Homo sapiens: one gene and its partners. The protein of the gene in region 1 binds, or shares a complex with, the protein of each later gene. Each region holds a gene or a part of one and is shown in the gene's direction. Other genes may lie near its edges.

What was found.
Region 2: the proteins of DGCR8 (region 1) and DROSHA are in contact, whole or in part, in a crystal structure (PDB 5B16), measured with the Homo sapiens proteins. Residues at the interface, in NP_073557.3 of Homo sapiens: Asn728, Ile731, Leu732, Lys734, Leu735, Gln736, Glu738, Met739, Lys740, Leu742, Ala743, Arg746, Arg750; in NP_001369437.1 of Homo sapiens: Leu984, Leu987, Phe988, Thr998, Tyr999, Thr1001, Ala1002, Ile1003, Gln1005, His1008, Phe1069, Asp1073, Leu1074, Glu1076, Val1077, Trp1078, Asn1080, Pro1082.
Region 3: the proteins of DGCR8 (region 1) and ERH are in contact, whole or in part, in a crystal structure (PDB 7CNC), measured with the Homo sapiens proteins. Residues at the interface, in NP_073557.3 of Homo sapiens: Lys107, Phe108, Ser109, Pro110, Asp111, Leu112, Leu114, Leu115; in NP_004441.1 of Homo sapiens: Val8, Pro10, Thr11, Thr18, Tyr19, Ala20, Glu27, Lys34 (codon at 1,240), Met35 (codon at 1,243), His39 (codon at 1,255), Arg42 (codon at 1,264), Met43 (codon at 1,267), Phe60 (codon at 1,318), Leu64 (codon at 1,330).

The regions. Positions count from the first base shown.
Region 1 is NC_000022.11:20,075,228-20,083,322, forward strand, and holds the start of DGCR8 (microprocessor complex subunit DGCR8), read left to right. Parts: upstream 1-5,013; 5' UTR 5,014-5,156; intron 5,157-6,447; exon of another isoform or gene 6,448-8,095.
Region 2 is NC_000005.10:31,466,092-31,473,196, reverse strand, and holds part of DROSHA (ribonuclease 3), read left to right. Parts: intron 1-964; coding exon 965-1,134; intron 1,135-5,133; coding exon 5,134-5,258; intron 5,259-6,915; coding exon 6,916-7,015; intron 7,016-7,105. UniProt on the Homo sapiens protein: Ribonuclease III double-stranded (ds) RNA-specific endoribonuclease that is involved in the initial step of microRNA (miRNA) biogenesis.
Region 3 is NC_000014.9:69,381,210-69,388,314, reverse strand, and holds part of ERH (enhancer of rudimentary homolog), read left to right. Parts: intron 1-1,231; coding exon 1,232-1,352; intron 1,353-1,977; exon of another isoform or gene 1,978-2,269; intron 2,270-7,105. UniProt on the Homo sapiens protein: May have a role in the cell cycle.

The DNA.
Region 1 (8,095 bases):
AAAAATAAAAAGTAAAATAATAATAATAATAATAAAAGGTAAACAGAAATCTTCATAATCTCAAATACTGTAAGAAAACTTTGTCATTTCAACAGAGAAGATCAAGTTAAAGTTCTGCATCATAGCACTACTAATAAAGCTAATTTTAACAAAACCTTATAAATGAATCCATCCAATCTCATGCAAGATAATATTTCTTTTCCAAGATTTCTTTTCTATAGATCTTTTACAACTTAAAAAAAATATCTGGCCGGGCACGGTGGCTCATGCCTGTAATCCCAGCACTTTGGGAGGCCGAGGCGGGTGGATCATGAGGTGAGGAGATCGAGACCAGCCTGGCTAACACGGTGAAACCCTGTCTCTACTAAAAATATAAAAAATTAGCCAGGTATGGTGGCGGGCAGCTGTAGTTCCAGCTACTCGGGAGGCTGAGGCAGGAGCATGGCGTGAACCCGGGAGGCAGAGGTTTCAGTGAGTCGAGATCTTGCCACTGCACTCCAGCCTGGGTGACACAGAGAGATGCCATCTCAAAAAAAAAAAATCTATCAGTACTTTTTTTCCCCTACATTTTTTTTCTTTCTCATTCTGGAACAACCAGTTGCTATATATATTAGCACAGAGTCAGTTATTCCTTTAAGGGATTTTATAAATTAATTTGGTGCTACTATCTGGAGGTAGAAAAATATCATGTATATATAACATACAAACATACATATGTAGTTGCTCTGCAACTGAAGTTGGCAGAGGCCAGACCCAGTGGCTCACGCCTGTAATCCCAGCACTTTGGGAGGCCAAGGCAGGCAGATCACTTAAGGCCAGGAGTTTGAGACCAGTCTTGCCAACATGGTGAAACCTGGTCTCTACAAAAATACAAAAAAATCAGCTGGGCGTAGTGGCGTGCGCTTATAGTCCCAGCTACCTTGGAGACTGAGGCAGGAGAATAGCTTGAACCCAGGAGGTGGAGGCTGCAGTGAGCCGAGACTGCGCCACTGCACTCCAGCCTGGGTGACCCAGTGAGTCTCTGTCTTAAATAAATACATAAATAAATAAACAAACAAATAAATAAAGTTGGCAGAGTATATAGTCTGAAGGGGTTTGAGGAAAGGGGATTCAGGTGACTGAGAAGTTCCGATGGGAGAAGTAGGATCCAATAGAGAGAACAGAGAGGCCTCACAGTGGGAAGAAAAGACTGCCAGCCCAGGAGTCAGGGAGTGAATCCCCATTCAGAATGAAGAGCCACAAGGAAGACCTTCCAACCCAGGAAGTATTATACCTTTCAAAAGAAGGCTGGGACCTTAAAAATCAAAATCTGTCCTTACCAGCTAAAATAAAAGTTTTTCTACAGTCATGGCTCAGGAGTTTGACTCACCAGTAGATCCCCAATCAGCCAGTCAGAAGACAAAGGCTGCAAAGTTGCACATTGAGAGTCCTGGGTCAGAGGCCTGTGGCACCACAACCATTAAAGAAAAAAATTATTCAGCCCTTGTCAAAGCACGGTCGGGAAGGCCTTATTCAGGAGCATTGCCACTGGCATATGGACCACAGGCAATGGGGTTTTGCTGCAGGGGAGAGATTGGGCTGAACTCTGAATACAGCATGGACAAGTGTGAACTGATAGCCAAGGAGCAGGGCGGGGGTCAGTGGATGAAAAATTACTAAGAAGAAACATAAGTGATAAGGGGGATACTGGCTAAGCTGACCTAAGAGGATTCTTGCTGAAGACAGGCTGGGGTGATCAGACATCACCTAGAGGATGGTGGAGGGATGAGGAATTTCATCAGTATTGAGGGCGATCAGATATCAAAAGCAGGGTGGTTCTTGCTAAACTGGAATTCTCAGACGGGCCTAGAAGATTTAGGAGCCTGACTAAAGTTTGGCCAAGCAAATAATCTTTTGTCAATACAACAACACGATACTTTTTACTGTTTGTTTTTTTTTTTTTTTTTTTTTTTTTTTTTTTTGAGACAGAGTCTCCTGCTGTCTCCCAGGCTGGAGTGCAGTGGCGCGATCTCAGCTCACTGCAACCTTTGCATCCCGGGTTCAAGCAATTCTCCTGCCTCAGCCTCCCAAGTAGCTGCAACTACAGGTGCGTGCCACCATGCCCGGCTAATGTTTTTGTATTTTTAGTAGAGACGGGGTTTCACCCTGTTAGCCAGGATGGTCTCGATCTCCTGACCTCGTGATCTGCCTGCCTCAGCCTCCCAAAGTGCTGGGATTACAGGCGTGAGCCACCGCGCCAGGCCAATACAATAGTATTAACTAATCTACAGACCTTGTTTGAATTATATCAATTGTCCCATTAATGTCCCTTTTCTGAGCCAGGATCCCATCTATCGTCTGGATTCCACACTGCATTTTGTTATCTCTTTTAATTGAAGATGGCTCCTCAGTCCATCTTTGACTTGAATGATCTCGATACTTGAAAAGCACTGGCTGGTAATTTTGCAGAATGCCCCTAATTTGGGGTTTGTCTGCTCTTCATTCAGATTCTGCCTTTTGGGCAAAAATACCCACAAGTGAACTTGTGTTCTTCTCAGGAGGTCCACAGTATGTCCTCTTACTGGAACTAACTTTTTTCATTTCTATTGAGGCAGAATTTATATACAATGCAATACACATGTTTAAATGGTACAATTTGCTAAGTTTGCTGGTGACCTTGATGGCTTGGTTAAAGGTGGTGTCGCCCAAGTTTTCTTCCACTCTAAAACTACTATTTTCCCTAGGCAATTAGTATCCTGGGGGAGAAACTTTGCAACACTGAAAACAAAACAAAACCTGTTTGTCATGTTTTTGCCCACTATTTTTTTTTTTTTTTGAGATGGAGTCTCACTCTGTCACCCAGGCTGGAGTGCAGTGGCGTGATCCCGGCTCACCACAACCTCTGCCTCCCAGGTTCAAGTGATTCTCCTGCCTTGGCCTCCCGAGTAGCTGGGACTACAGGCACGTGCCACCATGCCCAGCTAATTTTTTTTGTAGTTTTAGTAGAGACGAGGTTTCACCATCTTGGCCAGGATGGTCTTGATCTCTTGACCTCGTGACCCACCCGCCTCGGCCTCCCAAAGTGCTGGGATTACAGGCGTAAGCCACTGTGCCTGGCCTAATTTTTTTGTAGGGGGTTGGGGGCCGGGGACCGAGTCTCGTTCTGTTGCCCATGCTGGAGTGCAGTGGCTGGATCTTGGCTCACTGCAACTCCTGCCTCCCAGGTTCAAGCAATTCTCCAGCTTCAGCCTCCGTAGCTGGGACAACAGGCACCTGCCACCAAGCCCTGCTATTTTTTTTTGTATTTATAGTAGAGACAGGGTTTCACCATGTTGGTCAGGCTGGTCTCGAACTCCTAACCTCAAGTGATCCGCCCGCCTCGGCCTCCCAAAGTGCTGGGATTACACGCATGAGCCACTGTGCCTGGCCTTGCTCACTATTTTTTCTGGAGACGGTCTCGTTCTGTCACCCAGGTTGGAGTGCAGTGGCCCGATCTCAGATCATTGCAACCTCCACCTCCCGGGTTCAAGCGATTCTCCTGCCTCAGCCTCCCGAGTAGCTGGGATTACAGGTGCCTGCTACCACGCCTGGCTACTTTTTGTATTTTCAGTAGAGATAAGGTTTCGCCACGTTGCCCAAGCTGGTGTGGAACTCTTGAGCTCAGGTGATCCGCCTGCTTCGGCCTCCCAAAGTACTGGGGTTACAGGCGTGAGCCACAGGGCCCGGCCCACTATTTTTATCACTCAAGATTTTCGTCTACAGCAGCTATTATTGGGGTGGCTACCCAGTGGAAAATTTTTCTATTTCCACTATTCCTTCCACATTTATTGACAGGAAAGCTAGTCTAAGGAAGAGCTGTACCCTCACTTACTCAGACCCTCGTTTTCCTTTTTTTTTTTTTTTTTTTTGAGACGGAGTCTCACTCTGCCGCCCAGGCTAGAGTGAAAGTGGTGCTATCTCGGATCACTGCAGCCTGGAACTCCTGGACTCAGGTGATCCTTCCACCTCAGCCTCCCGAGTAGCTCGGACCACAGGCGCCCGCCACCACGCGGCTAATTAAAAATAATTTTGGGCCCGGCGCGGTGGCTCATGCCTGTAATCCCAGCACTTTGGGAGGCCGAGGCGGGCAGATCAATTGAGGCCAGGAGTTTGATACCAGCCTGGCCAACATGGTGAAACCCCGTCTCTACCAAAAATATAAAAATTAGCCGGGCGTGGTGGTGGGCGCCTGTAATCCCAGTTACTCGGGTGGGTGAGCCAGGAGAATCGCTTGAATCCGGGAGGCAAAGGTTGCAGTGAGCTGAGATCGCGCCACTGCACCCCAGCCTGGGAGACAAAGCGAGACACCGCCTCAAAAAAAAAAAAAAAAAGAAAGAAAATTTGTAGATACTGGGCTCTCACTATGTTAGCCAGGCTGGTCTCGAACTCCTGGGCTCAAGTAATCCTCCTGACTCGACCTCCCAAAACTCTGGGATTACAGGCGCAAGCCACCGTGCCCGGCCGAACCACCGTGCCCGGCCGAACCCTCCCTGTTTTGGAAATCCTGTATTAGCAAAGGGGACAGCGCCAGACAGTTGAGCACACGCGTTCTTTATAAATGATGATGTCTGATACAGTGATGCTTTTAACAGGGTTGTGTAACGCCTGTGTGTGCACGGTCTCTTCTGCAGTGTCCACCGAAGGTGGCCCGTCTGCGTGTCCGCTCCCGGCGTACTCCGCGCTCCCTGTTCCCGGCATTCCCCGCGCTCCCCGAGCTTCCCGCGCTCCCCTGCTCCCGGCATTCCCGGTGCTTCCCGTTCCCGGCGCTCCTCGCGGCCGCCGCCCTCAGTCCAGCGAGCCCCGCCTGGGCAGCGACTGTTAGCGCGACCGCGGCCTGGGCGCCTGGTCCCTCCCGCGCGGCCGCGCTATTGGGCCGCGCGCGGCGGACACACGCGCTACGCGCCGCCGATTGGCGGCCTCCGCAGCGCGCTCTGCGGCTCCCCCAATGCGGGGCGGCCGCGCGCGGGGATTGGCCGCACGCCGCGAAGGCCCGCCCTCCGCTCGCCCGGCGCGGCAGGCGGGTGCCGGCGACCGGAGAGCCTGGACAGGCTTTCCAGATGGCTGCGGCGGTCGGTCGGTGAGGCTTTCCCGGCTGTGGTTTGGCTGCGGGCGGCTTGGGCAGCCCGCGGGCGCCTCAGGTAGGTGCGGGGCGCGAGGGGCGCCCGCGGGCGGTTGGGCGGGCGCCGCGGCCTGCGCGAGGGCGCGCCCTTCCCTCCCGCCTCCCTCCGGGACCGAGGCCGCGGGCGGGGCGGGGGCGCGGAGCCCGGCCTTTGTGAGGCAACATGGCCGCGGGCGGTGGAGAGCGCGGGGTGGGGACGCCTCCGGGGCTGGGGGGCGGGCCCCGGGCCCAGGCGTTGCCGACTCTCGTCGCTGTCCGCCCGGGTAAAGAGGCTCCTCTCCCGGAGGGCCCGAAGCCTAGCATCGCCTTCAGGCGGGAAAGGTGTGGACAGGGCCAGTGCTCGCCTGGGACCCTGCCGGCTTTAACACAGTTTGGGAAATCCAAGAAGTCGCCTAAGTCTTTTTGTCCACAGAATGCTCACGGGTTGAGTGTCACGTAGATAATTGGGATACGGTTTTATTGTAACAATGAGCATGGCGGAAATAAATGGAAGGTGGCAACCTGTTGACAGTGATGCCTGTCTGGTGTCAACCGATGGACTTGGGTTTCTTGTGGCAGGAGTCTGATTTGCCTTTTTGCATGCTTGCATGTACCTTGTTCCTGCACGGCAGTCCTGTCTTTGGCTGTCGACTGTTCGAGGCCAACCACCAGGCGAGGATCCACTGTTTCCTGGCCAGACTAGACTCCCAGCTGTGGGAGTGGCCCAAACCCTGCTGCAGGCCTTCACTCACAAAAGGGAGTGAATGGCCAGCCCGGGGTACCCAGTGTTGCCTCTAAGTGCGGGATATGAGGCCTGTTGGAGGATGACAAAAGGAACGGATGAGGTCATACTGCCGCTGGGTTGGGCGGGAGGCTGCAGCGGGAGAGACTTGACCAAAAGGCAGCCTCCATGGCGCTGGCACTGGTGCTGGCCCGTCACAGCCAGTGCCTCTGTTAGCCAACACAGCAAGTGGGCTAGGAGGAAGGGTGCTGTCCAAGTGTACGGGTTTTCTCCCCGTGCCAAGGGTCCAGGGGAGCTTGCCGTGAGCCCGTTCCTGTCCGATAGTCCTGTTGGCAAGGCAGGGTTTGCATGCGGTGTTTGGTCAGCTGGAGCAGTGGGGAGGCCTACGGGCAGAGAGCTCCCCTTTGAGCCCTTTGCGGCCAGGCGCTGTGTGGAGCACTTCCCAGGGGTTGTTTTGTAGTCTCACCGTGACCTTGGGGTAGGAAATGTGCTTCTGGCTGGCTTGCCCAGTCTTAGACTCTCTTGTTGTAGCCCTCTCCTTTGTGATGTCACCCAGCCTCCTGACTTTAATGCCAGCTTTCCTTGACATCTTCACAGCTCCAGCCCTGGCCTCTCTTCTGATTTCCAGCCTGGTGTTTCTGGCCACCTCTTCCATATCTCCATGTGTTACTTTGGCGCCAAGTAGCCATATCCAAACCAAACTCAAATCTTCACCCATGCCAAAACATTCCTTGGCCTATCTAAAGTCCCTTTGATTCCTCTCTTTCTTACACCTTCATGCAGTCCTAAGGAGGCCCCGTCAGCTCACCTATTTCTAAGCACAGACCATTTCTCACCACCTTCAAGTTAACATCCTGGCCCAGCCTACCTGGTGAGCCTCTAATTCTCTTTACTGTCACCTTAGGTCCTCACTCCCCATCCACCATCTATAGTTTTTCTGGACACAGAGTGATTCTTCTTTCTTTCTTTTTTTTTTTTTTTGTTTTTTTGAGACAGAATCTCGCTCTGTCGCCCAGACTGGAGTGCAGTGGCGTGATCTCAGCTCACTGCAACTTCTGCCTCCCGGGTTCAAGCGATTCTCCTGCCTCAGCCTCCCAAGTAGCTGGGACTGCAGGCGTCCACCACCACCACGCCCGGCTGATTTTTGTATTTTTAGTAGAGACGGGGTTTCACCATGTTGGCCAGGCTGGTCTCGAACTCCTGGCCTCAAATGATCTGCCTGCCTCAGCCTTCCAGAGCGCTGGGATTACAGGCGTGAGCCACTGTGCCTGGCCACAGAGTGATTCTTTTTATTTTTTTGAGACAGAGTCTCGCTTTGTTGCTCAGGCTGGAGTGCAGTGGTGCGATCTCCCGCTCACTGTAAGCTTCGCCTCCTGGGTTCAAGCCATTCTCCTGCCTCAGCCTCCCGAGTAGCTGGGACTATAGGCGCCCACCACCACACTCGGCTAATTTTTTGTATTTTTAATAGAGACGGGGTTTCAATGTGTTAGCCAGGGTGGTGTCGATCTCCTGACCTTGTGGTCCGCCTGCCTCAGCCTCCCAAAGTGCTGGGATTACAGTCGTGCACCACCGCGCCCGGCCCAGAGTGGTTCTTTTAAACCATAAGATGGTATAAAACAGAGGCGGTGTAGATGCAAGCCAGCTTGCCTGCTTGTAAAGCAGCTCCATCACTTCCTGGCTGTATGACCTTGAGCATGTGGGTGAACCTTTCTTCCATAATGCTATGTGAGACCTGGGTGAGTTAAAATGCTTAAAGTGCTTAGAACAGGGCCTGGCTGAGGTTTGGTTGCCACTGCTATCCTGGAATCAGCTGATGCCACTGTGTGGGCCTTCCTATCCGGTGGCCCATCTCTCTCACTAAGAGCCAAAGTCCTGGCAGCAGCCTGGGAGGACCAGCCCTGATCCATCTGCCCTCATGGACTTGGCCCACTGTCACGTCCCCTCAGCACACTGCCCCAGCTGGCCACACCACATTCCTGACCCCAGCCCTCTGCTTTTCCTCTCAGTGTCACCTGGAACATCCCCTCCTCCCAGCCCTGTAACCCACCTGGCTCACTCCTGCCTTCACGTGGATGCAGGCCATGAGGCCTTCTTGGATCCCCCTTCCTAAAACTGCCTCCCCTTCTTCAGGCGCTTTCCTTGTTTTGTTTTTGCTTGAATACTTCTTGGCATGTGACAGGGTGCATGCTTTTCTTAGTTGTTAGCGGTCCATCTCCCCCACTAAAATGTGAGCTCTG
Region 2 (7,105 bases), on another chromosome or scaffold:
ATTGCTGCCATCTTGTGCTCTTTGTCCCTTTCTTTCTCCCTGAAGTGTTTGGTCCTGTACTACTGTTCATAGCCTATCTCATAACCTGGGAGAGGGTAATGATTGTCCTCTTCAGGGCTCTTGTCCTTTGTTTGGTTGGGTGTAGGCAAAGAAAAGAGATATAAAATGGTTGCCCATGTTGGTCCAGAAGTTAAGTCCAAAGAGAAGGCAGAAGCCTGTGGACCCCACATTAATGCCCAAATGAAGTGGATGTCTTTAGTTCATCAAATACTAGATTAATTGGCTTTTTCCAAGGTACTTGAATGATGCCCTTTGTTATTTTTATCCCCTGTACTTGGTGCTATATGCTTCTGTAGGCCTCAGAGCACTTGGTTTTTTTTCCATGTACTAACTCCATAATGATCTTCCATGATATTAGCACAGGCTCTTTAGCTCTGTTCATCATGGCAGGTGCAGCACATTAGCACCAAAAAATTAGACCATAATGCAACAACAGCTTATTGAAGACATCCATAAATATCTCACAAAAGCTTAGAATTTCCTTAAGACAGTAACATCACTTCTAAAGAGCTTTCATCTGTTACCTCAGAAAGAATGATAAAATATTTAAGACCTAACATGGTTCTGTATATTATAAACTATGGTTATTTATGCTAGGTGGCTTTAAATTTATTTAGATAGGCACCTTTTTTATATTCATACCTCACAAATGGAGCCTTTTATCATTTATAATGTTGTTGTTGCCAATTTAGTAAATGAGATGGTTTATGAGCACTGTTCATCAATGAAACAAATGGCTTTCATATTATTTGGCACCTGGTTAAACAGTGTAAATTTTACATTACCTTTTTGTATGTGCTCTTTTTCCTCCATTGTCTTGTTTTTTTCCTTATTCAGTTGTTGATTTGCTGTAAGTTGAGTAGCCTTATTTTTCCCCTTCTCTCCACTCCCATTCCCACCCAAGATGGAGGAAAGGAAGTGCTGTCCATGCACCAGATTCTCCTGTACTTGTTAAGGTGCAGCAAAGCCCTGGTGCCTGAGGAGGAGATTGCCAATATGCTTCAGTGGGAGGAGCTGGAGTGGCAGAAATATGCAGAAGAATGCAAAGGCATGATTGTTACCAACCCTGGGACGGTATGTTCTGGTGTCTGTATATTCAGAGGCTGGAGGACCTTCTTTTCCAGATCTGAATGTTTCATGAAAACAGTAACAGCACATTTTAAAAGTTTTAGGTAGTCACTGCTCTTGTCCTTGGATAATTTTTCCTTTAAATATTTAGTAAATAAGAAAATATTACAATTTAGGCATATTTGGTCGTAAATTCACCTAATTTAGTAAATTTATTCTACCTGAAGATAGGTACATTTTTAAGGCTTTTGACGCATGTTGCAGATTGCTTTCCAGAAGGGCTGTAAAATTTGTACTCTGGGAGCATATGAGAGCAACCATATCTTCATGCTGGTTATACTAAGGGAATTTGATGAGAGTTGGGGGGCGGGAAATGTCTTAGTTCAGTTTTGTATTTATTTTGATTTCTAAATGTTTATTGCCCATTCATGTTTTCTTTTGTTAATTGCTTGTTAATATCCTTTGATCTTTTTTGTAGCCTTCTTTTTTATTGATCCTCCGCCATAATTATTATAAATATTTTACATTTCTTTGGGTGCTACTTAAGTTTTTTGTTTTAAAATTAGCTTTTAATATTCAATTTTAGAAGTAAAAAATGCAAACATTAAAAGGATATAATTAAAAGAAAACTAGTTCTTATATAAAGACATAACATTTTCTTTATATCAATTTTTTTCTTCTAAATTAGTGTTACTGTTTCATAAAATAGTTATATGTTGGCATCTTATAAGGATAAAATTTTATAGAAATGAAGAATTAAAATATTTCCGTGAAAATAAATGGAATAATCTACTTAACAAAGCTGTTGTTTTCCAAAAAGCTGCCAATTGCTTAATAGCTTTGATTCATAAACTAAAAACTCTGGATCTACTTTTTGTAGCATGACAGTAACATCTGCACAAACAAAATGTTGCTATTTGCAAATAAAACATTCTGGCTAGTATGGATTCTTTTAAACAAATCCAGAAAGTAAAATTGTTTAATAAAAATATGTTTAAACATAAAACATGTTTAAAACCAGAAAATCGTATAATTTTTACTGTTATACTGTTAAGCCACATAATTATTAAAGTAACTTTAAAAGAAATATGTAAGTAATAACACTCTCAGAGTAAGACTGTGAATTCTATTTTTATTCTTAAAACAGTTGCATATATTGATATTCCCTCTGTCACTTTTCATGCTGAGTCAGAGGATGGGGCGGTGGTGGTGGCAGATGTCCAGTTTCAGCTGGGTGGTTCCACTTGGAGAGTTCCATGTTCTGTGGTAGACACGGGGGGAGCACGTTCACCCTGGACTTCCTTCCATGGTATAGTTACGTTTTCCTGAAATCTAGAATCAGCTGGAGAGTTTAAAAAAAAACTTAAGGATACCCTGGCTTAAGGATATAGCTACCTTATATACTCCAGGCAGTGAGGCCCAGTTTTCTGTAGTTAAAAAAAAATCCTCAAACGTTTGATTTTCTCACTGCTTGTTTTTGAGCCAGTGGCATAGATGAAGTTTATGATCACCATGATCATCATTCAACTAATTTGTCAAGGGACTACTATATGAGCCAGGTGCTAGTGAAGTTATATGTTAGGCTGGCACAAAAGTAGTTGCGGGGGTCTGCCATACCGCAACTATTTTTGCACCAAACTAATGTATGATGCTTGCCCAGGTGAAAACCCAAAGACCACTAACATATGAAAGGAGTCTTTGATGAATGGTTGAGCCAATGGATGCATCAGGAAAGCCTCTCATTTTAGGAGCTATCACTGGGATAGGCTTGCCAGGGGTGCTTCCTAAACAGTAAGATCTCTGAGGAATTGAGAAATTGTAGAAATTATTGGCATGATTAACTGTGCATCCTTGAGATGCTGTAAAGCCAGTATTAACAACATGAAGTCAGACCTAGTCAGTATGAAAGATTTTTATTGGAAGTTTCAGTGTCAGGCTTAGGAATGTGTTGAAGTTAATTCTTTTATACTGTTTATCTGAAGATATGCTTAAAGGAGGAAAAAAATCTTGAGAATTCAGTATTATGAAAACATCCTACTGAGAAGTGTGCAAGTTACTCATACGACAAGGTAGACACCACACTACATTTCATCCTCTGTAGGACTTGCTTTGAAAGATTGCAAAATGGCAAGAATATTGGGAAATTTATTAAAAATTTCAAGCCATTATGGTCACTTTAAATACTATATTGCTGCAGAACTTAAAAGAATTAATCTTCCAAGGAATACTTTTGTCATTAGTGACTTTTGTCATTTTTTATTCTTAAACAAAGATGGCATAATAAATGTTATAGGGTGTAGCCAAAGTCTAGAATATATTTCATTTCCTGCTCCCTCAACCCCTGCCATAAATTTAGAGATACTATAGATATTTTAAATCACTGTTTCCTGTGTTGGTACCATGGCATGGTGTTTAAAATCACAGAAACATGAATAATTCAATAGCATTCTATTCCACAGTTCGCATTCTAAAAATGTATCCTGCTGTTTTGTTGTACAAAATAATGAAAGTAATTCTTTGACCTTAAATAGCACGTTGCTACTGTTGATGGGCATTTAAATAATTTTATAATGGATTACATGTGAACAAAATATTTTCCATTTTCAAATTTTGAGAGCAGAGACCAACTTTTCAAGAAGCTAGTGACATTTTGTTTGTTAAATGACACTTAAAAAGTTTGAGGGGTTTTTTTTTTGTTTTGTTTTGTTTTTTGAGACAGAGTCTCACTCTGTTGCCCAGGCTGGAGCACAGTGGTGCGATCTCAGCTCACTACAACCTCCGCCTCCCGGGTTCAAGTGATTCTCCTGCCTCAGCCCCCTGAGTAGCTGGGACTACAGGTGTGCGCCACCACGCCCGGCTAATTTTTGTATTTTTAGTAGAGATGGGGTTTCACTATGTTGGCCAGGCTGGTCTCGAACTCCTGACCTCGTGATCCACCCGCCTTGGCCTCCCAAAGGTTTGAGTGTTTTAAGTAATGTGGGTGAATTCACCCAAGTTTATCCCTTTTGTCACCTCATTGAATATTTGTCAGATGGCTGGCTGGTATCACAGTTGTAGGTAGAGTGACCAGTTTGTCCCAGTTGCTGAGAGATTTCCTGGTTTTAGCATTGAAATTCCTCTGTCCCAGGGAAACCAGGCAGCCAACCAGACTCTAATTGTTGGGCATTGTTGTGGGACAGAATGAAGATTATTGGCCTCTGTGTGAATCAGTTTTAACAGCCTTAGCCTCCAAAGCAACTGAGCCGCAGACTCTACAGTGTGCTAGTGAAAACTGAATCTCTAATTGAGACTGTCCTGAGAGGTGATTATAAGGAAGGAGGTTGCTGAAACCTGTTCTCTGTGATTTTACCATCTTTTCATAAATTTAAGCTTTCAAGATGAAAGCCATTTCACAAATGATCCAGAAGGAATGAGCCATTCACTTCTTCCTTTATTAGACATGAAGAAAAAAATATGAGGCTCTCTGTTAAAATACACAAATGTCCTACATGGACATAATAAAAGAAGCTTAACTATTTGGCCTTTGCACCACTATACTTTCTAACTTAAAGATGTAGAATTAAAGGAATACATAAGATCCACTGAGAACAAGTGAGGGAAAAAACTTAAATAGAGGCATCTGTGCATTCTGAAATGTGAAATTAAAGCAGAAGAGGCTCTGCCTGTGATGTGGAATCCTTCCCCTGTGCCTTCAGAGAGGTTAAGGAAAAGTTATATCTGACTAGGTGTCCTTTTAAAAGTTTAATTTTTAAAGGTTTCTATGTGGACTGCAAAAAAGGACAAAATCATTGTTCATTATGCCAAATGGCATAGGCTCATTTACAAGGATGACATTATAGTTTTTAGATAGTATAGCTGCTGTAATTAAAGGGTTTTAAATGACCTTTTCCCTTTGGGGACAAGGCTTTCCTGGAAAAAAGTCCGATTTATTCCTTCCCTACTTAGGTTAAAGTCAATACATAAAGACTTCTTATGGGAATAAATGGCTTTGATTTTTCTCTCTAGAAACCAAGCTCTGTCCGTATCGATCAACTGGATCGTGAACAGTTCAACCCCGATGTGATTACTTTTCCGATTATCGTCCACTTTGGGATACGCCCTGCACAGTTGAGTTATGCAGGAGACCCACAGTAAGATATTTCTCAGTGTTTGTCTTAGCCAATTTCACCTTCTACTAACAGCCAAATTAGCAGAGAAATACCCTTTAGTGGATGTTTCCTTTTTAAAAATTAAGACCTGAAATGAGCCATACTTCCAATTTAGATTACCCAAATGAAACAATTGTGGTAGCTCCTGAAGAATTATTTTCTGTACATATTTGAGTGCAAGAAACTATTATTCAATAGAATATTTTTGGCAAACTTGGTCAACATAAGTCCTTGTATGTTTTTAAACTTTAAGGAACTTTTTCTTTATTCATCCTTATAATAATAATTATTATTTTTTATTTTTTCAGTGCCCTCTAGAGGAAAGTAGCACATATTGGTTCCTAGCACTGCCGAATTTATGCAGAGTTCTCTTTTTGGGGGCATCTTAAGAGTTCAAGATCACATGCAAAGTCAAGGTTGTGTTGGAAGTAGGAGCCGTGACTTCTGACTCTTAGGATTGATGTAACTTTCCACGTTTTGATTTTTCCAACTGGCATGTTAGTGTTTTCTGGGAGAAGATTTAGGATGTGTGGGAATGGAGATAGTACCATTAGATTCTTCGGGACTGTTTGGATTTCCTACCTTGCTAAACACACAAACAGCTTCCTGACTTATTTTTTTTTTTTTTTTAAAAAGGATTCATAGTGGGAGAAAAGGGCATGGGAGATTTTCAATTCATAAATACAGTTCTGGCTGACATATATTAGAAGAGGCTAAAGGGTTTTGTTCTTTTTTTTCCCCCTTTGGATAAAAGTATGAAGCAGTGAACCAGGCACTGTGTAAGTACTTCTTTCTTTCCTCCATTCTCTTAAAAAAAAAAAAAAAAGTTTTCAAAAAAGGAGAGGCCCAGCTAAGGCCAAGAAAGGAACAGTTTTAATGTGACAGAAAATCTTTGGAAAATCCCTTCTTGTCAGAAAAATGTTAGTAGAATGTGATGAGGCTCTCGTGGACTCTCAGATGGCAGGACTGTGAATTGATAAAGGACTGCATATTCGCTTCATTTCCAGGACGCTTTGACAGTATCCTTTAGACTGGTCTAGGTTATCACTTATTTGGCTGCAACAAATATGCTTATATTGTCATGGTAAATACAAATTGGTATACACCATTAGTCTTTTATCCTCTCCAGTGGACAAATGGATACAGCTATGTAGCTTGGGTTTTGGCACAAATGGGGTTCTCTATTCTAATACTCTTCAACTTATATTTGGTATAAGTAGTTCAGCAACTGACAGTCTCCCTAAGGAAGGGGTCTTTCTTTCAACAAATATCAGAAAGTGTATATTTAAATAAAATCTGTTATTTTCAAGAGGTAACAGTGAGAAACAGGATGATTCCTTTGGTTGAGGTGTTTTTGTGTCTTTGGAATTCTTTCCAGAGATTCATTCATATAGTCACACCTCATTTCCAACTGAAATAAGCAATAATCAACTTAATCACCAGGTTCCAGTTGACTCTTGTCCATCCTGACTCTCAGCCTCAAAGTCATAGCCTTCCTTAGAATGATGGCTTTCTGCCATTAAGAATAATCAAAAGAATGTAATGTATGATTTGAAGAGGCCTCTTAAAATAACTGGTTTTGTTGCATTTTAGGTTTACCTCCTCTTTACCTGAGATGTTTGCCTGTCCTTTTCCTTAGGTACCAAAAACTGTGGAAGAGTTATGTGAAACTTCGCCACCTCCTAGCAAATAGTCCCAAAGTCAAACAAACTGACAAACAGAAGCTGGCACAGAGGGAGGTCTGTATCAAACTCCATTCCTTGGTGATTAACGATGATGTGCTTCAGGTTTATTTCGTGATTGTTGTATCACACTATACTTCTGGTACA
Region 3 (7,105 bases), on another chromosome or scaffold:
ATTATAATTAGTAATGTGGGCTTGCTATTAATGATTTTGCTCATTATCTTTTTTATTATATTTAAGTACTTATATCCTTGTTCATGTGCTAATGCTTTATGTGTATTATTTCAAATAAACCTCACAATTCTATGAAGAGGCACTCTTAACTCTGTTTGACAGGTGTGGTTCAGGGAATGGCGTCGTTTGTCCTCGGTTTGACAGGGGCAGAGTTGGAACTAAAGTCTGTCTGAATCCATAGTCTAGGATTTTTTGTTTGTTTGTTTGTTTGAGACAGAGTCTTGCTCTGTCACCCGGGCTGGAGTGCAGTGGCCGATCTCGGCTCACTGCAATCTCCACCTCCCAGGTTCATGCCATTCTCCTGCTTCAGCCTCCCGAGTAGCTGGGGCTACAGGTGCCTGCCACCATGCCTGGCTAATTTTTTGTATTTTTTTAGTAGAGACAGGGTTTCACTGTGTTGGCCAGGATGGTCTCTATCTCCTGACCTCGTGATCCGCCCGCCTTGGCCTCCCAAAGTGCTGGGATTACAGGCGTGAGCCACTGTGCCCGGCCTAGTCTAGGATCTTAAATATACATTAGGATAATCTCTTTCCTTGTTGCCAATTTTTTTTTTTTTTTTGCTCTGTGGCTTTAGGAAGAATTACTGAAAAACCTGTTAAGACCCACAGTGTTATTTGTTTGAGCCATCAGATGGCAAGTCTTTAAAGCCCCTTAGCTCCAGTGGTTTGAAGTAATCATTTTATTATTAAGACACAAAATAGTTACATCAACATTGTGGTGAATTTCTCAGCTGCCCAGACTGGAGTGCAGTGATGCAATCACGGCTCACTGCAGCCAAGTGATTCTCCCACCTCAGCTTCCCAGGTAGCTGGGACCACAAGCACACGCCATCACGCCTGGCTAATTTTTTAATTTTTGTAGAGATGAGGTCTCCCTGTGTTGCCCAGGCAGGCTGGTCTTAAACTGTGGGGCTCAAGTGATGCTCCTGCCTCAGCCTCCCAAAGAGCTGGGATTACAGGCGTAAGCCACTACACCTGACCTGGTGAATTTATAAAATAAAAAAGTATTTGCTAGTGGCAATAATCAAAAGCCATCAATCTATCATCTTTTCCCCAGCCCAACTTTATTAAAGTAAATATGATATCAACATATAGCACAGCTCATAAGCACTGCTCATATCTAGAAGTGTATGCGATTGTAAGATTTTGCTTTTTTTCCTATCCTTTCTTAGGTGTTTGTAAAATGTATGAAGAACATCTGAAAAGAATGAATCCCAACAGTCCCTCTATCACATATGACATCAGTCAGTTGTTTGATTTCATCGATGATCTGGCAGACCTCAGCTGCCTGGTGTAAGTATTAGCCAACATGTCTTTTATCTTGTATTTTCTATTGCTTTTCTGTCTGTTTGAGGTGATTTATGGTATTGGGAGCTAATTATGTGCCTGATACTGATCTTTGCATTTGCATAGTGTATAGTAATTAATATTTCTCTTACAGAAATAAGAGATTGGCAACATAAAGCCAAAGGCACAGAAAAAAATAACTTTGCTAATTGATATAGTTAGTATCCAGAAAGGATCCTAATTCAGAAGTTCCATGTGCCTCTTCTTTGTTCCTTATACCTAATTTTTTTTTTCCTTTACAGTCTTTGTCTTAAAGCCATTGGTTTTGGATTAAAACTAAGATTATCTTTTTTTCATGACATTTCAAAAACTTAAATATGCGTATAGCTGAAATTTAATTTCAATCCTACGCTGTGTAAGTACGTATATTTTGGTATGTTAGAGTGAGATTTTTTAACATATTTGTTATAGTTTGTATTGATAATCTGCTTCTGACAATTACTAACAAGGAGCATAAAGTGTTACTGTAGACTTACCTAATCTTTTTTACATTAGCGAACAGAAATTGAGTGTAAATACAGCTCATTTAACCGAGGAAAATGGAAGCACCTTATGATACAATACTCAATCATCAGATACTTGAATATTTATTACATGTCAGGTGCTGTGCTAGAAGTTGAAAGAGCAGTGATGAGAAATATACAAGTCTTACTCATAGGCACTTCCTGGATCACCACTGGAGCCAATCATGGAATGTGGCTGCACCATGCTGTCTCCCCAAAAGTTCCAAAACACGCATTTCCTTGGGATGTTTGAGTTTTGTTTTCTGTACCTCTTCATTGTGTTCCGGTTGTAGCCATTTCACTTTGATCACTCAGAACATTCAAATGAATGTTGCATGGTACTTTAAGCCATTCAGACATCTATAGGAAAAACATACCAGACAGAGGGGATGAGGGACAGCTAGTGTAGAAGTCCTGAAGTAGGAGTGCCTAGCATGTTTGAAGTCATTAAGGAAGCCTTTGAGGCTGCAGAGGAATGAGTGAAGGAGAGTGTCTTAGGAGATTGGAGGAGCAGGGAGCAATGATATCCTGGAAGCCAAATGCAGAAGTGTGTCATATCATTGATAGGACAGATATGTGAGGACTGAGAATTTAATTGACCCCTGGATTTGACACTGTGGAAGTCTTTGGTGACTTCCAGAACGGTTGTGGTAGAGTGCCAGGAGTAAAATGCTTACAGATTTCAGTGTATGGAAGGGAATGAAAAGAGAGGATTTATAGGTGGCCATTACAGGCTTGCTTTTTTTTTTTTTTTCCTTTTTTTTATTTAAAGAATTTTGCTTGAAAGAACAGAAAAATGGGGTTGTAGCTGGAGAAAGAAATTGCTTTTTTTTAAGTGGGAAAAGTAATGGTAAGTTTGCAGGCTGATGGGATGATGTACCAGAGAAGGAGAAACTGATAGCTCAAATTGGCTCTTGGACAGTTCAATCATAAAAAAGGGAGGACAGGCAAATTTGGGAGCTGGGGGGAATTATCTTCTGTATGCTTCAGTTATCTCAGAAAGATAAGGAGCAAGGACATCATTTGAAACAGGTGTTACAGGTTTGTGGAAAAGTAAGAAATAAGCTAGGAAGGTGAAAGAATTAGGGAACTGCAATTAATTCAGGGATGCATTAAGTGTCCTCCAAAGTACCTATCTGATAGTGATTTAAAGTGAAATCAGTCATTGTGATCATGGGATTTTTTTCCTAGTCTCTCTCACCTGGATGGTTACAGGTGAGGAGTAGGTAGAGAGTAAAGATTTTGCTAAAGGTTGAGGGCATATATGAGGACAACAGCAACGACTGAATGACCATGAGCTTTAATTGGGGGTGTAGGAGGAGGTGCTGGAAACAGAGGTAGATCAGTTCATTGTAGGTCCCACTGGATCAAGGATTGCTCACATTAGAGTGTTAGGAAGTGGTGATCAGAGAATGACATGCTTGAAATTAGGAAATTGAAGTAGTTGGAAATGACAAGGTCTAGGGATCTGGCCAAGAGAGGGTAGGAGATGAGATCATTAGAGGAAAAGACTTCATGGAATTGGGAGGCCTAAGTGTTGACAGAATCATCCACTGGATATGAAATTACCAATAATGTGTATATTAATTGATAGAATTTAAGAAGAAGTTGCTTTGTGTTTGTTCACTGCTGCATCTCTGGTACATAATTAGTGCTGAGTAAATATTGGTTATATAAATGCACGTCACTTGTGTTGTTATTTGAGGAATAGCTTTCTAAAATTATTGATAATTTTCTATTTCCCTTATTTATATTACAGAGCTATATTCTGCATTGATTAAAAATTAATGGTTGTCTTTATGGTTTTATAAAAGAACCTTACTGAAACATTCAGGATGTAATCCTGACGCTTTTGGGATGTCATACTTACTCCCAGTAAGTGGGAAGTAAACTTGAAGCAAAGGATCATGTTTTACTTGTCTTGGGAGGCTGTGGTTAAGAGCTAGCTGGAGTGGCAGAATTAGACATAGCTGGGTTTGAATCCTGGGTCTACCATTTGCTAGCTCCCTTTGACAAGGCAGCTTTGTATTGCTAAACTTTAGTTTGCTAATTTGTAAAATTCAGACAAATCTAGTTCATAAGACTCCTTGTGAGGATCAAGTGCTTGCTGAGCACAGCATTATTAGATATGCAGCAACTCCCTTTTCAACTAGATTGAAGAAGTCAGGATAGAGTTTTATTTTTAATTACAAGCATGTTCTTAAATTTGCCAGGAGTAGAATGATATGAATTTTAATGTCTACGTGTGAGATAAATTATAAATTTCAAGGGAGATTTAAAAGGTGTTGAGGTTTTTTCAACAATATGAAAATTGAGCAGAGTAAAACAGTTACAAGTGACATGTTAATGATATACAAGTATGTCATTAATGACATAACATAACTTTTCTAACTTTGTACTAGACTTTATAAAAAAAAAATTTTAGAGACAGGGTCTTGCTATATTACCCAGGCTGGTCTCAAACTCCTGGGCTCAAGTGATCCTCCTTCCTCAGCCTCCCCAAGGAGTGATATTACAGGCATGAGCAACTGTGCCCGGCTGCATTAGACTTTAAAATGTAAACTAGAAACCATATCTAGCATACTAAACTGATTTTTAATACAATATTTGCTATATTAAAGCAACATAGGGGGAAAGCTTTAATTATTACCTAGATAATTCTTCCCACCTACAGTATTTCCAGAAATATAGAAGAGAGGTTAATGATAATTTATGGTTTTTTAGTAGTTTCAGAGTGTTAAAAACCGTAAATTATCATAGCTTGAAAACCTGTAACTATTTGTTTGTTTCTAATGTTGAAAATTTTTTGGCCTCTGAAAAACTTTCAGAATCAAATTTAGGATTTAAAACTATTTTCCCCAGGTGACTTTGGTTATGTCCTTTTTGTTCTTTGAATATTCAGGAGAAATAAGGTATTGTTTCCAAAGAGGTAACCCACTGCCACAGCACATCCTGTGATTTGGGCCGTTACTCCTCAGACCAGAGACTGGGTCCGTTTTTGGTTTGTAGATGGTTGTGTGCTCATAGTTTCTATTAAATTTACATGGCAGTGACCTAGGACTTTTTTAAATTAATTCTTTTTAAACAGCGTAGGTGGAAATGGAATAAATAAGATTCTACTTTGTAACATGACTAAACCCAGAGCAAACTGACCATGCATTAATAATAAAATGTAGGCATGAAAATTTGTATTTCGTATACTTAAAGTCAGAGTCAGATTTTTCCAGTTTTCTGATCTGTATGTTTTTTAAATAAGCTTTTTGTAAGATGAAAATAATGCCCTTTTGATTATGCAGTATTTTCTTGTTTGCTTAGAGACATAAAGAACATTTAAACTGTCAGTTATTATAATGACAAGAGGTATTCCTGATCAGTAAGAGAAGTTATCACTGAAGACATTTCTGATTTCACTGCCCAGACCCACAGCTTCTGTTCTTATATAAACCTACATTCATTGACCATAACAATAGGTTAAAAGATTCATCTGTGCCAATGACTAGGCATTTTATTAAAGTATTTAACATTTAATTGTCTCATTTTCAAGTGCCAGTTAACAGCCATCGACACACAGCTTTCCATAAAGAAGGCATTATTGCTTTTTTTTTTTTTTTCTTTTGGAGATAGAGTCTTGCACTGTCGCCAGGGTTCAAGCGATTCTCCTGCCTCAGCCTCCCGAGTAGCTGGGACTACAGGTGCGCGCCACCACGCCCAGCTAATTTTTGTATTTTTTTTTTTTGGTGGAGACGGGGTTTCACAATGTTGGTCAGGATGGTCTTGATCTCTTGACATTGTGGCCCGCCTGCCTCAGCCTCCCAAAGTGCTGGGATTACAGGCATGAGCCACTGGCACCTGGCCTACTATTTGATGAGTTGGAAAATTGCATGCAAGTTGATGGATTCCTTAATGTTCACAAACCAGAGTGATTTTTGTTGGGGGGAATGGTATAAACAAAGCCTGTCCCACCCAGATATGATAATTGTGAGAAATTTTGTTCCTTTTTAAGTTATTTTCCAGTGTTAATATAAATGTTATAGTCTCTTCTGCTACATTTTGCAGTAGACTAGCTTAGAGCTTATTTAATTAGGAAGCATGGACAAAGAGTTTTCAGAAAAAATTAAATTTTAGAATTTTTAAATTTGGTTAAGCATTTTTAAAAATGGGAATCTTGTACATTTTTAATAAACCAGATTGTGACCTTACTGTTCAGAGGAAGAATATGATGTTAATTGTATAAAGCATTCCTACTTTGGAATTTATTTCCCTTGCCAAAAATTGTAGTTTAGGTTTCTAACTTAGTGATTAACAGTGAGGACTCTGGAGTCAGGAGTATTTAAAATCTATCTCCAGTCCAGCATTACCTAGCTAATAACTTGCTTCACTTTTTAAAGCCTTGGTTTCTCATTTATGAAAAAGGAGGCCAGGTGCGGTGGCTCACGCCTGTAATCCCAGCACTTTGGGCGGCCGAGGCGGCTGGATCACTTGAGGGTCAGGAGTTCAAGACCAACCTGGCCAACATAGTGAAACCTGGTCTCTACTAAAAATACAAAACATTAGCTGGACGTGGTGGCACACACCTATAGTCTTACCTACTCAGGAGGCTGAGGCAGGAGAATCATGTGAACCCAGGTGGCAGAGGTTGCAGTGAGCCAAGATGGCACCACTGCACTCCAGACTGAGTTACAGAGTGAGATTCTGTCTCAAAAAAAAGCAGGGGTCGGTGGTGGGGGTGGTGGGAAGTGAGGATAATTGTACCTACTCACAGGGTTGTAAAAATGAGTTAATTCAGATAAGAATTTAAAGCGACACCCAGTACTCTGTGACATCTTACTAGATACTACTCACAGTCCCATTGGAGTTTTACTGCTAATGCTAGTCTGTGTACTCCTTTTCGTTCTGATTAGAGATATTTTGGAGCTTACTGTATCTTCTGATAATTCTTCTCCATAGGCCTCTAGCATTATTTATTTTAAAAAGCAAATCCTAAAATATAGGTTTAAGATTTCCTTAATACTTTACAGGGGGAAGGAAATTAGCAAGAAATCTTTGTTGCCAGTACATGTTTTTTAAAGGTTTTTTAGTTAATTCAGAATAAACATTGCAAATCTAAAGTTTGTTCTAGTATTGTTGTTTTTGTTTTTTTGAGATGGAGTCTCACTCACAGGAGTGCAGTGGCACGATCTCGGCTCACTGCATCCT